Homo sapiens: one gene and its partners. The protein of the gene in region 4 purifies or fractionates together with the protein of the main gene of each other region. This does not show direct contact. Each region holds a gene or a part of one and is shown on either strand. Other genes may lie near its edges.

Evidence for each region. The genes of interacting proteins can lie anywhere in the genome.
Region 1: the proteins of NKAP (region 4) and ZC3H18 purify together in Homo sapiens (affinity purification with mass spectrometry; 2 studies listed by BioGRID and IntAct, with this or other methods). This does not show direct contact.
Region 2: the proteins of NKAP (region 4) and RNPS1 purify together in Homo sapiens (co-immunoprecipitation; 4 studies listed by BioGRID and IntAct, with this or other methods). This does not show direct contact.
Region 3: the proteins of NKAP (region 4) and CSNK2A1 purify together in Homo sapiens (affinity purification with mass spectrometry; 4 studies listed by BioGRID and IntAct, with this or other methods). This does not show direct contact.

The regions. Positions count from the first base shown.
Region 1 is NC_000016.10:88,597,903-88,601,402, forward strand, and holds part of ZC3H18 (zinc finger CCCH domain-containing protein 18), read left to right. Parts: intron 1-275; coding exon 276-424; intron 425-717; coding exon 718-810; intron 811-1,888; coding exon 1,889-2,046; intron 2,047-3,500.
Region 2 is NC_000016.10:2,261,627-2,265,126, forward strand, and holds part of RNPS1 (RNA-binding protein with serine-rich domain 1), read right to left. Parts: intron 3,135-3,500; 5' UTR 3,018-3,134; coding exon 2,947-3,017; intron 2,706-2,946; coding exon 2,550-2,705; intron 1,662-2,549; coding exon 1,470-1,661; intron 1,217-1,469; coding exon 1,114-1,216; intron 806-1,113; coding exon 652-805; intron 1-651. UniProt on the Homo sapiens protein: Part of pre- and post-splicing multiprotein mRNP complexes. Auxiliary component of the splicing-dependent multiprotein exon junction complex (EJC) deposited at splice junction on mRNAs.
Region 3 is NC_000020.11:484,791-488,290, forward strand, and holds part of CSNK2A1 (casein kinase II subunit alpha), read right to left. Parts: intron 2,786-3,500; coding exon 2,637-2,785; intron 1,673-2,636; coding exon 1,586-1,672; intron 1-1,585. UniProt on the Homo sapiens protein: Catalytic subunit of a constitutively active serine/threonine-protein kinase complex that phosphorylates a large number of substrates containing acidic residues C-terminal to the phosphorylated serine or threonine.
Region 4 is NC_000023.11:119,930,252-119,933,751, forward strand, and holds part of NKAP (NF-kappa-B-activating protein), read right to left. Parts: intron 1,966-3,500; coding exon 1,856-1,965; intron 1,761-1,855; coding exon 1,685-1,760; intron 1-1,684. UniProt on the Homo sapiens protein: Acts as a transcriptional repressor. Plays a role as a transcriptional corepressor of the Notch-mediated signaling required for T-cell development. Also involved in the TNF and IL-1 induced NF-kappa-B activation.

The sequences.
Region 1 (3,500 bases), on a different chromosome or scaffold from region 4:
ACGCGTGAACTCTCCACAAAGTGACTTTGTGGTCACTCTGACCGAGGTGCCTGGCAGCCTCTGGGGAACTGCCGTGCCTGGGCAGGTGCAGCTGTCTGGCTCAGCCTCTCCAGGCTCATCCCGCCCACCTCCCCGTTCAGTTCCCACTACTGTGTGGCTCGCCATCAGGCCTGGGTAAACATGGCCTCTGCCCCCTCCCACCCCCCACCCCAGCAGCTGCCCTTGTGCAATTAGGCTCTTGTGGACCCTTTCTGATCTCACTTTTGTTTCCATAGGGAACTGTACCTGGGGAATGAATTGTAGGTTTATACACCCTGGAGTGAACGACAAGGGGAACTACTCCCTAATCACCAAAGCCGACCCCTTCCCGCCTAATGGTGCCCCGCCTCTCGGACCTCACCCGCTGATGCCCGCCAACCCTTGGGTGCGTGATGCCTCTTCTTTCATTGTTAGCACATCAGCCAACTGAGCTGTGTCTGAATCTCAAGCTTAAGACAAGTCACTGTGCCTTAGCACAGGCTCAGTGCCCCCTTTCGGCTGCTTCTGTCGTCCCGAGTGGAAGCAGGCCTCGGCTTTCCGAGGACGGAGTGAGGCTTGGTGGAAGGAGAGCGGCCACACACGGCCGGCTTGTGTTGTAGTTGATGTTTTTACTGTCTGGTTTCTCTGTACACTTGAAAGTTTTACTTTCTCACCTTCTCCCTTCTCGTTTTTCAATAGGGTGGGCCGGTAGTTGATGAAATTTTGCCTCCACCCCCTCCAGAGCCCCCAACAGAGAGTGCCTGGGAACGAGGACTCCGGCATGCAAAGGAGGTAAACACAATTCAGCAGAAATCCCGACAAGAAAGATGCTATTACAGGAGTGGTTCTTGACAAAACTGGGATTTCCTCGGTCCAGAGAGAGCCCCAGAAATCTCTGAAGTTAGGCGTCTGTTTCTGTGGTGTCTTTCTTTATTTTTTATTTATTTATTTTTTTGGAGACAGAGTTTCACTCTTGTTGCCCAGGCTGGAGTGCAATGGCCCAAACTCGACTCACTGCAGCCTCCGCCTCCCAGGTTCATGTGATTCTCCTGCTCGGCCTCCCAAGTAGCTGGGATTACAGGCATGCGCCACCAGGCCCGGAAGGATGGAGAGTTATATCTAACTGTCTCAGGCAGCAGCCCAGTAGGCCAGGGAGTTCAGTCCAGGGCATACCCACTGTCTTCATGGGGCTGGATCAGCACTGGGCCACACCCCAGCTGGCACTGCCCAGGAGCACAGGGTGCAGTCTCCAGCCACTCACAGAAAGCCTGGCGAGGCTGCCCGAGCCGCACCCCCAGGATCTGCACCCCACACTCCTGAGACTCAGTGTCTGCTCTTCCTGGAGAAAACTTGGAGCTTTCTGGTCCTATCACTGCACACTTCCTCCCTCTAGGCCCACGTTGGCCCCAGTGTGTGAGCTTCAGCTCTGGGGACCACTCTGCTGGCACCCAGCCCCACTTCCTCATTTTCCTGGTCAGCCTCCCTGCTGGGAAATGACGGACAAGATGTTCCTTCTCACTCCCTCGGCATGTCACTTCCTTCCCTCTGAGACTCCAGCCACTCCACCTGCTGCTTGTCACTGAGTGACTGAACCCTGGATCTAGTTCCAAGGGTAGTTGAAGGAAGTGATGAACACCTCATGTGGGCACACGGAGGCCGGGGGCAGCTGTTTGTGCAGAGACGGGCACAGACTGCCCTCCCCAGAAGGACAACTGTGCTGTGTCCGCCCCTCACCCCTTGAGCACTTGCAGCGTGCAGCTCCTGCTCCTGCAGGGCTGCTGCGGTCGGGTGGGACGGCTCCCTTTGTGTTTCCTAACAGCGACGCCCGGTATTCTGTTCCATGTTGACTTCTTTCTTCTTACAATGGTAGGTTTTAAAAAAAGCAACTATTCGAAAAGAACAGGAGCCTGATTTTGAAGAGAAAAGGTTTACGGTGACCATTGGCGAAGACGAACGGGAATTTGACAAAGAAAATGAAGTTTTTCGAGATTGGAATTCTCGGATCCCGAGAGATGTCAGAGACACAGTGTAAGGAATGGCCCTGCCTGCCCCTCCGTTTCCTTCCTGCATGCGGCCACGCTCCGGAGAGAGCAGCCATGTGCAGGGCCCCAGGGTGCGCTCGGCTGAGACCCAGCCCCACTCACTGGAGTCTCAGTGACGTTCCTGAGAGCATTCAGGCACGGTTCTCAGAGCTCATCTCAGTTTTTTGCTTCTAGGAAGGAAGCGTTAGGGCTCTGTGCCATGGGCCTTGACTGGCAGCACTCACACCGTTGTGGTTCCTGAGCTCTGAGAGTTTTCGCTGCTGTCCTTGAGGCCTCTAGAGCCCCACAAGTCTGTGTTTCTGGCTCCTCACCCCTGCCCACATTACCCAGGAGCCAGGAAACGTGTGGAGGTTGCCACAAGCCAGGAACACAACAGCTGCGGCCTCTTCGCTGTCAGGGCTGTTCTGCCTTCACTGCTTCTCCTCCAGGGCATTGATGGCTGGTTTTTGTTTTTTGGTTTTTTTTCCCGAGGCAGAGTCTTGCTCTGTCGCCCAAGCTGGAGTGCAGTTGCGCAATCTTGGCTCACTGCAACCTCCGCCTCCCTGGGTTGAAGTGATTCTCCTGCTTCAGCCTCCTGAGTAGCTGGAACTACAGGTGTCTGCTACCACACCCAACTCAGTTTTGTGTTTTTAGTAGAGATGGATTTCACCATGTTGGCCAGGATGGTCTCGAACTCCTGACCTCAAGTGATCCACCCACGCCTGCCTCCCAGAGTGCTGGGACTACAGGCGTGAACCACTGCACCCAGCCCCTTTATGCCTGGTCTTTAAAAATCCTGTCTTAACAGAAGAAGTGCCTGGGTCGAAGGGTGGAAGTCAGATCTTGGGGGATTGCATGGCATATAAAGTGCTGTTTTCCTCTGCCTGTGGATGGCACGGTGAGGTTCAGGGCAGGGAACTGGATTATAATTCGGGCAGATCTGAATTGGCACTCCATCATGCTGAGGCTTTAGCAGCCCTGTACATTTCTGGTTGCTATTAGGGAATCATAATCACTATGATTTCTATCTGGAGTGACAATAAACGGTGCTCAAAAAAGGAAGGCGTGCAGGGCTTGCACTCCAGGATTTGGTCCTGTCGACTTGGCCCTGCAAGGCCCTTCTCAAGGCCTTCTTGCCGCGAGCAGGCTACCCTGGGCTTTCCGCCTGCGGAAGTTGGGGGAGGAAGCCCCAGTGGCCCACACCTGCCCCAGCAGGTGAGAGCTTAGAGGTTAAAGGGATAGGTATTTAAAGACTTGGTTAACATGTACATTTTCTAATTAAGTTTTGTGTGGAATGTCAGATCACAGAAAGGAGCATTTGAGTCAGAACTCTGCAGGATCACCAGGGGTGTCTCCTGAAGCCCTGGAGGCCTTTGTGTTTTTTTGTTAGATGTGGATATCGTCTTTCCTTCCCCAGAGCTCGTGTGCACAGAGGTCTCTATAAATATGTGTGGGGAAGGA
Region 2 (3,500 bases), on a different chromosome or scaffold from region 4:
AAGCCAAGGCCCTTATACAAAGGCTGGGATATAAGAAAAGCCCACCAAAAGTTTAGCTTAGGCCTTTCCTGGGCCTTAAAACATAAAATAACGAAGAATACGTCAGGACCCATTTAGGATTAAGCCAGTTTTATTGGGAAGAAAACTCCCCAAACTGCTGTGATTTAGCAGAAGGCAAAGCAAGGGTAATTACCCCAGCACTCACAGCCATTTAAATTAAGTCAATTTACTGAGGCTCCAGAGGAAGGTCTTCAAGACTCAATCCTTAGTTAATAGATTAAAAGTCAGTAACTTATGTCTTTACATAAATGTACACATATGTATAGACATATAGCTTAAAAAATATATAAGCTCTGAAAAACTTTGTAATTTTAAGTTGGTCTGGCAATAATTTCCAGGCCTTTTCCCTGCAACTGGTTGCAGAAATAAAAACTCCACCTACTCAGTTAATGTGCATCTTGTTATTGGGCCATGAGAAATAGCAGCCCAAACCTCAGTTTGGTCCAGGAACTGCACCCCAGCCTGGGCAACAAGTGTGAAACTCTGTCTCAAACAAACAAAAAGAAGTGCAGCCCAGTTGGAAATCAGTTTGAAAGCCCCTCGCGGCGGCGGGTCTCTGAGAGGTCAGGGTTATGTGGCAGGGTCACCCACCTCCATCCATGTGCTTCAGCGCCTTCTCGGCTTCATCTGGATTCTCAAACTCTACGTACGCATAGCCTTTGGACAGATGGGGATGCATCCTTTCCACGGGCATGTCAATCATTTTAATTTTCCCATAGGTGGAAAATATCTCCATGATGTGATCCTAGAGGGAAAGAAGGGTCACGCCAACGCCCAGCTACCAGTCAGTCACGTCAGACGCAGAGAGCTCAGCACATCATGACTAAAACCTCGGCAGGGTAAAACATTCCATCTGATGAGTACCAGTGTTGTTCTGGGATAAATCTCCCAGACACATGTATTAATGGTCCACCAAGAGGAACGAATCAATGCTGTACTCAAACCACATGCCACCACCCCAGTCCTCCAAAAGGCTACATTCTAAGTTCATCTGCAGGCACAGGCCTGCTTGTCCACACCCCACTGCCCACAGGAGAGATCCATGATCCTCACCTTTGTCACATTCCGGGTGAGTCTCCCAATGTGCACTTTGGTGGGCTTAGGAGATGGGCTCCGCCTTTTCCTCTCCTTTTCATCTCTTTTAGGTGGTTTGGATCTGATTGAGAAAACAAAACACCAGAAACAATTTCTGTCAAGTCAAAATGTACTAGACGCCTTTCGAGTAAGCTCTTATCTGCTTGTGTGACAGTTTTCATAAGGAAGACTTTCCTGCTAGTTCACATACATTATTCCTGTCTCAGAAATCCTATTAACACAGAAAGACTCCTTTTGGGTCCCTTTTATAACCTCGATGGTAAATCTGTAGCCCCGAGCTTGTAAACTTTAGCTCCCAGGCGCAGGGCACTCACTTGGAGCGGGAGCGCCTCCTGTTGTCGTGTCTGCGCCGAGAAGGACTTGGAGAGCCAGAAGAGCTGCTAGAGCTGGAGCTGCGGGAGGTGCTGGAGCTTCCTGAGCGGCTGGATGCTGAGGAAGAGCTGGAGCCACTGCTTGAGCCAGTGCTGGTGCTGGAGCCTGAGCTGGAAGTCGAGCTGGACCGAGACCTGAGGGCAAGATGAGGGGTCACAACCACCACACACCAAGTCTCACAGTACAGACGCCTCCTCCAATTCTGTTGTGCTCCCCCCAGGAGAAACCTGCTGTTCGGGTGCCTCCAGGCCTCACTGCTTTCAGCAGTGGGGAAAACATCACCCCCCAATCCCCCAGCAAGTCAGAGCCCTAGGTGTCACATTGTGTGTGGGACAGGACAGAGGTGATGGGCTGCCTTCTACCCATACAGAAGCCTTTCCTGCTGGGAGGCAAAGGACTCTGGCAAAAGTCACAACTGCCAACTCAGGCTGGGAAGGCAGCTGCTGGCTGATGCTGACCCAGGCTAGGTTGATTTTTTCTTTTGAGACAGGGTCTGCCACCCAAGCTGGAGTGCAGTGGCATGATCTCCGCACACTGCAGCTTCAACCCCCTGGAATCAAGCCATCCTCCTGACTCAGCCTCCCGAGTAGCTGGGAGTACAGGCGTGTACCACCACACCCGGCTAGTTTTGTTTATTTTCCTCAAACTCCTGGGCTCAAGCCATCCTCTTGCCTCAGCCCTCCCAAGTAGCTGGGACTACAGATGCATGCCACCACGCTCAGCTAATTTTACAAATTACTCTTTTTTTTTTTTTTTTGTAGAGACGAGCTCTTGTTTTGTTGCCCATGCTGGTCTTGAACTCCAGGCCCCAAGCAATCCTCCTGCCTCGGCCTCCCAAAGTGCTGGGATTATAGGCATGAGCCACCACTGCACCTAGCCAGTCTGCCATAAATTAGGGTCTCTACTAACAATCAGAGGATGTGTTTTCTTTGTAAATAATCAAGAAAACCGAGCCATCTGTGGGGAGTGGGGGTGTAGCTGTGGCACAGGTCCTCTCCAGGCTCCAGGCCAGCCCGCCCCACCTGGTACTGCTGCTACCACTGGAAGCGCTGCGCCTCTTTCGGGTTTTGTCCCGGCCGCGATCCTTCTCACTCGACTCCTTGGTGGCCCCTTTATCTTTTGAGCGATCCTTGGACTTCTCATCTGAGCGGTCTTTGCGTTTGGTAGGTGAAGGAGCCCTGGATGGTGAGGAAGAGTGTGAGATTGCGTGCTCCTCTGACCAAACCCAAACAGCACAACCCAAAACGGGGGATCAGCATCAGCAGGGCCACAGAGACCCGAGGTGACCACAGAGCAAAGTGGTCTGTGGCTCAGAACACTCACTGTAGAATGCAGAACATTCTCAACTTTCCCCTTTCTGCGGGTCCCTAGCAGTAAGCACCCCCAAGTAGCACTAGAAAAATCTTACAGAAGGATTACCTAGTGCTGGACTTTTTATTATTTTCTTTGACTCCTAGCAAGCTCTTCTTTTTCACTCCTGATAAATCCATTCTCCCCTTCTGAGGTGTTCAAAGCAGCAATGGCGGCCTCACTTATCTGAACTCTCACTTCTAACTTGATTCTGAGAAACGATCCCTAATCGATTGCAATTTACGCCAAAGAGCAGCCTAATAACAAGATAAAAGGGTTTAAAGAGTGAACGAATTGGCAAGGCAACAAGTCTACTTTGCAGTCAAAAGCTGAGCACACAAAAAGGCAGCAAGGGAGCACGGTAAGCAATAAGTGTCCACACAGTCAGGAACACATAGGGACAGTCCCCATGTGCTCCTGGAGGCGTCTCTACCCCGCAGAGGAGGCACAGGTACAACTGTCGCCCCAGCGTATCTTTTTCTTAAAAAATGGAGATGGTGGAGACCATCACTGTTATTTTACAGGCTGAACAATTCAGTTTTCACCCACAAGTTTGATGAGCCCCTGCAGTCCTTTCAAAATGCCACAGCACCACATTCACATGCAGAACAGAGAAAAACCTA
Region 3 (3,500 bases), on a different chromosome or scaffold from region 4:
GTGCAGTGTCTCACGCCTGTAATGCCAGCACTTTGGGAGGCCAAGTTGGGCGGATCACCTGAGGTCAGGAGTTCAAGACCAGCCTGGCCAACATGGTGAAACCCCATCTCTACTAAAAATACAAAAATTAGCTGGGCGTCATGGCGGGCGCCTGTAGTCCCAGCTACCTGGGAGGTTGAGGTGGGAGAATCGCTTGAACCCGGGAGGCGGAGGCTGCAGCAGCTGAGATTGTGCCACTGCACTCCAGCCTTGGCCACAGAGCAAGACCTTGTCTCCAAAAAAAAAAAAAAAAAAAAAAAAAAAAAAAAAAAAAAAAAAAATATATATATATATATATATATATATATGAGAACATTATTATACATTCTTCTCCACTCCTCTTAGACATGGCTCTGCATCTCACTTTTTCTTTTGAGACAGAGTCTCACTCTCACCCAGGCTGGAGGGCAACGGTGCGATCTCGGCTCACTGCAACCTCTGCCTCCCAAGTTCAAGCGATTATCTTGCCTTAGCCTCCAAGTAGCTGGGATTAAAGGCGCCGCCGCCACGCCCAGCTAATTTTTTGTATTTCCAGTAGAGACAGGGTTTCGCCATGCTGGCCAGGCTGGTCTCGAACTCCTGACCTCAAGTGACCCACCCGCCTCAGCCTCCCAAAGTGCTGGGATTACAGGCATGAGCCACTGCACCTGGCCCTGCATCTTGCGTTTTAAATTTCACATTATTATATTGGAGTTGGAGATCTAACAGAACATGAAACTCTTATTCTACTGGCTGCACCACATTCCATTAAATGGATATACCATAACTGATTTAACCAGTTTCCTACTGATAGCTATTCTCAATGTTTTGTTATTACAAATAAGGCTACAAGTAAGTTTGGATATACATTACTCTGTACAGAGGTAGGATACTCAAGGGGTAAATTCTAGAAGGCAGTTAGTTCTTTTCTTAAAAAAGAGGAGGGCAACAGCAATTATTTGAGGATATGTAAGTAAATGCCTTCACTACCAGATATGCACCCACTTGGATGTTGCCTATATGTATAATTCTTATGCTATGTGCCTGTAGTTCCTTTGGAATAACTGGGTACTCTATAAAAATTCACTGTGCGTCACAATGATCCAATAATGGAAAACCATTTTACTTATGTTTTTACAACTGATAGGCACTCTATAGTTGCTCTGGCACATGTCACGGAACTGTCCTTGTACACATACACACCTATGTATAAACCCCACCTCTATACCCCATTTCTTAACATTGTTTCTAAGGGCCATGTAACTACTGTCATTTCAAACTATAAGATGAAATGGTGTATTTTTCCTTTTCATGGCTTGGCACTTTCAAGCCCCTATGCCAAAAATTTTCAGCCAGGAATGCTGAGATTCTAGCCTAGAAGGGGATACCCTACTCAAGACAGTATCACTAAAGTATACCAAATGTCAAGCATGCTGAAACCTGGTTAAAAAAAAGTCACAAGGCCACCAGTACGGAGAAGAGAAGGTATACAAGAAATCAGACCACAAAGCTAAGAACAGTAATTGACTTCCACATTTTTTTAAAGAAAATTTACCAATGAACTGACCTGACATCATATTGGCGCTGCTGACGGGCGTACTGCCCCCTGGCATGCTAGATGAACCCATTCGAGCCTGGTCCTTCACAACAGTGTCTAGAAAAGAGACAAAAAGGCTAGGTTCTGTTTTGCTTGAAAGATTAAACTAATGGTCTGGAAGCCTGAAAGCAGCCAGCTTCATTCTTTGCAATTTATATATACTCTACATTATTCCCCAAAGAACTTAAGGTGGCAATTGCCTTCACCATGAATTAGACAAGTGGTAAAAAGCAGAAATAGCTTTCCTATCAAACTGTGGTAAAAGCTAACCTTTCAATCAAATGGTAGAAAGATGAGGTAATTATTTATAGCAGAGCGAATTTAATGAAGCCCTGGTCCTGTTGAGGTTTAATGGAGACAAGACACTGTAACTCGGCAAAGACGGTAATATATTACCAGTGTGTCCACAGCCCAGTACCAAGTAGGCCAAAGCTATAGGTCCATGTAGCTTAGGGCTATGACCACATTCTCTATCCCAATCAGCCTATCTATCTGCTTCAGGTATTGGGCAAAAGTATAAATGATTCAGTACAAAACCATCACACCGAAGGAAAAATGTCATGTTGCAGCTAACATCACAGTGCAGATGGGGTGGGTCTCAGTGGTATTTTCACTTAGGATGGCACAGGTGGCTATACTCACAAATCTAAGTCAAGGTGTTCATACAATTTTAAGATTTGTAAGCCTCATTAGCTCTTTCCAACGAATGATTACTAGGGACAGGAAAGATACAGGGCTGTGTATTCTAATTCAACCATTCCAGACTGAGGCACTGAGAAGTGTCATCCTCACAGTATGAAAAGAGTTTATTTAGGAATGCTCTTGTGTCATGTATTCTGTTACAGAAGAATTCTTCCAGTAATTCTGCAATGTAGTTGCCATCACTATCCCCACTGGAAGAATCTGAGGCTCAGTGTGGGTGAATTAACTTTGCAGCAAGCTGACAGGAGCTGGGATTACGACTCTGTTCTATAGGACTCTGCGCCTGCACAAACTCTGTGGGCTAGATATCTGGACTCACAGAAATAGGGGTGCTCCATTGCCTCTCTTGCAGTAAGCCGTGACTGGTGGTCATATCGCAGCAGTTTGTCCAGGAAATCCAAGGCCTCAGGGCTGACAAGGTGCTGATTTTCACTGTGGACAAAGCGTTCCCATCGCTTTCGAGAGTGTCTGCAGGACCAAAAGAGGGCATGAGAAATGGGCCACGTGGGCACAGAAGCCCAACATTTCATTCCTACATTTTTCTTAGTGGCTAACAGCCCAGACAAAAGCAAAGAGGGATCCAAACTCAAGAGGGTAGTCTTGCACCGCTCTGCCACTGAGTGGGACAACAAAGCTAACTGGAGACTGGAAACAACATAGCTAGAGTGAAAAAAGACATCTGAGTCCTCTCAATTTTAAGAAACATAATTCAGGTTACTTGACAGGACGTGACCGCTTCTGTGTAGCAAGGAGGGTCAGGTGGCTGAGCTCACCAGGCCTATTTCCCATCCCCACACATATTCCTGGCATCTCTGCCAATTGGCCAGCAAAAGCCTTTGCATCAGGAAAGTCCATCTCCTCCTGTTGAGTGGTTAAGTGTATAAGTACTATATCTAGTCACTACTGTTAAGAGTCGGTTGTCTGCATATAGCCTTTTTTTTTTTTTTTTTGGAGACAGGGTCTCACTCTGTTGCCCAGACTGGAGCGCAGCCACATGTTCATTGCTCTCTGTAGCATTCCCTCCTGGGCTCAAGGGAAGCTCCTGCCTCAGCTTCCTAGTAGTCTGGACTACTGCCACACATCACCATGCATGGAGTCGAGGGTCTCATTATGTTGTCCAGGCTGGTCTCCAACTCCTGGGCTCAAGTGATCCTCCTAAAGTTCTGGGATTACAGATATGAGC
Region 4 (3,500 bases):
CCACATTTTCTCTCAAACAAGAGTAGGAATAACAGTGCTCAGCAGTAGTGTGCTAGGAAGCTCAATGTGAATTGCTTTATCCTAATTAGTGTATTAAACATTGCATTGCACTATGACCTATACAACTAACCCAGAAATGCAGAAATATTTTGAAAGAAAAGAACTGCTGTGAGTATAGATTCACAGTTTACAATTATGGATTAATTTATCCCTACAGGTATTGTCATTACTGGTTCTGGCTCCAGCTGATTCCCTTTCCCTTTTTCCCTTAAAAAATCCAAAGTATGCCAGGCACAGTGGCTCACGCCTACAATCTGAACACTTTGGGAGGCTGAGGCGGGAGGATCACCTGAGATCAGGAGCTTGAGAGCAGCCTGGCCAACATAGCGAAACCCCGTCTCTACTAAAAATACAAAATTAGCCGGGCATGGTGGTGCATGCTTGTAGTCCCAGCTACTCAGGAGGCTGAGGCAGGAGAATCACTTGAACCTGGGAGGCAGAGGTTGCAGTGAGCCGAGATCGTGTCACTGCACTCCAGCCTGGGCGACAGAGTAAGGCTTTGTCTCAAAAAACAAAACAAAACAAAACAAAAAAAAAAAACAAAGTAGGCTGGGTGCAGTGGCTGACGCCTGTAATCTCAGCATTTTTGGAGGTTGAGGCGGGCAGATCACTTGAGATCAGGAGTTCGAGACCATACTGGCCAACATGGCGAAACCCCAGCTCTACTAAAAATACAAAAATTAGTCCGGGCGTGGCGGCAGGCGCCTGTAATCCTGGCTACTTGGGAGGCTGAGGCAGGAGAATCACTTGAATCTGGGAGGTGGAGGTTGCAGTGAGCCAAGATCATGCCACTGCACTCCAGCCTGGGCAACAGAGTGAAACTCAATCACACCACTGTGCTTCAGCCTGGGAGACAGAGTGAGACTCCATCTCAAAAAAACAAAACAAAACAAACAAAAAAAAAATTCTAGACCAGGTGCGGTGGCTCACGCCTGTAATCCCAGCACTTTGGGAGGCTGAGGCAGGTGGATCATGAGGTCAGGAATTTGAGACCAGCCTGACCAACATGGTAAAACCGTATCTCTACTGAAAATACAAAAAAAAATTAGCTGAGTGTGGTGGCGCGTGCCTGTAATCCCAGTTACTCAGGAGGCTGAGGCAGGAGAATCGCTTGAACCTGGGAGGCAGAGGTTGCAGTGAGCCAAGATCACGCCACTAAACTCCAGCCTGGGCAACAGAGCGAGACTCCGTCTCACAAAAAGAAAAAAAAATTCTGCTGGTAAAAAAAGAAAAAAGAGAAAAAAAGGAATAAAAAATTCTGTGAGGATCAAAGAGAAACAGAAATCACACCTACTTGTGGAGGGGAAGTATTGGGAATCAGCATATGCATCTCCTTTTGAAAAGGGCTTCGAAGGATAGTAAGGATTTTAACAGGAAGAAACTGGCGATAGGGAAGAAAACAGAGGGCAGGGAAAAGAAGGGAAGGCATACTGGATGAAGAAATAAGCTGAACATGGCATAAAAGTTGCAAAGTGCACATTAAGCCCAGGGAATATTTAGTAGTCCAGCTCAGCTGGAACCTGGAGTAGAAATAAGGGAATAGAGTCAGATAAGCTTGGCAAGGTAAGTTAGAACCAGACTTTTTGGTAGGTACTTTAGATATTATAAACACACTGCTGCTTACTTCAAAGGTTTATCATCTTGAGAGGTAAGTGTTTTTGGAGCCTCTGGGCCAATTAAATCTGATGGTTCTTCAGCCTCTGCATGAAAGATATTAAGAAACACATTCACATTCTGACTAATTGGTTACTTTAATGTTTCATCTGTTCTGAGTTAGTCTATCAGAAGAACCTACTTGTTCGATCCTTCCAGGGATTTTCCAGAAACTCTTCTTGGGATTCTTTAGAGCTTGAATCACTGGACTCTTTTCTGCTCTTCTTAGACCTCTTTTTCTTATATTTCTTCCTATAGGGATTTTAATTTGATACAAATTCACTTAATCTTCCTATGTTAGAGGGCATCTTAATTTTTCTTTTCTTTTTAAATTTTGAACTGGTGACTATACATCTTAATTTTTCAAGGCAAAGAAAGGTGACAATAAAATGATCTGAATTCCCAGCTTATTCAAACTTACAAGATAATTTTACTTAAAAAAATCTGCTTCTAACTGAACCTGGGAAACAGAGCAAGACCCCGTCTCTATTAAAAAAAAAAAAAAGTAGCTGGGTGTGATGGCACACATCTGTAGTCTAAGCTATTCAGGAGGCTGAGGCGGGAGGATCACTTGAGCCCAGGAGTTCGAGGCTGCAATGAGCTATGATTAGCCCACTGCACTCCAGTCTGGGCAACAGAGCGAGACACTGCCTCTTAAGAATTTTTTTAAAAAGTATTCTAACTTATTTAACCAAATCATCTTTTGCTATAAAAATTATCACTAAAGGAGGCTGGGTGTAGTGTTTCACCCCTGTAATCCCAGCACATTGGAAGACTGAGGCGGGTGGGTCACTTGAGCCCAGGGGTTAGAAACTAGCCCTGGGCAACATGACGAAACCGTGTCTCTACAAAAAATACAAAAATTAGCCAGGTGTGGTGGCACACGCCTGTAGTCCCAGGTATGGGGAAAGTGGGGGCAGAGGTGGGAGGATGGCTTGATCCTGGAAGGTTGAGGTTGTAGTGAGCTGTGATCGTGCCACTGCATTCCAGCCTGGGTGACAGGGTGAGACACGGTCTCAAAAAAAAAAAAATTCACTAAAGGGAACAATGAAATACAGTTCTGATGTTGTAGAAAGACAACAGAAATAAAACAGCCTAAAAAGTCCCAACAATTTGAACATTATGAATAATTTTATGTGTAATGGATTAAAATATGTCAAATATGTTTAAATCCTTGGGTTAATAATACTTTTTAAAAATCCAATTCATTATTTGAAAAGTCATTAAAACAAAAAAAATCAAGCAATTATCCTGCTCTTACAATATAAACTATATTTCAGGGTATCTAAATAGTTGATGAGGGTAAGTTTCTCTTATAGAATCATTCTGCCTAATAAATGAAGGATAAAGCCAGGATTAGACTATCACCATTTTACAACCCCTAATGAAATAATGGATCGAGATAATGACCATCAATGGCTGTTAATATGACAAAAAGTGACAACCAGACATTATTTGCCTCCTGACAGTAAACAGCACCACTTATGAAGTATTCTTGCCCCAACTCAAATCTGAGCCTTCTCAGGCCTCTAGACCTATTAATCTATTGGAAATACAGAGGACAGAACATGCCAAAGAATACCATAAGAATACGGTCACTGCAATTTAGGGACATTATTTGGATCCTGATTGGAATAAACTACAGAAAAAACTGCTGAGAATAGAGGAATTATTATTAAATGTTTTAGGCACAATAATAGCATTCTGGTTATGGGTTTTTGTTTTTTTTTTAAATATAGAGACAGGATCTCGCTATGTTGCCCAGGCTGGTATTGAACTCCTGGGCT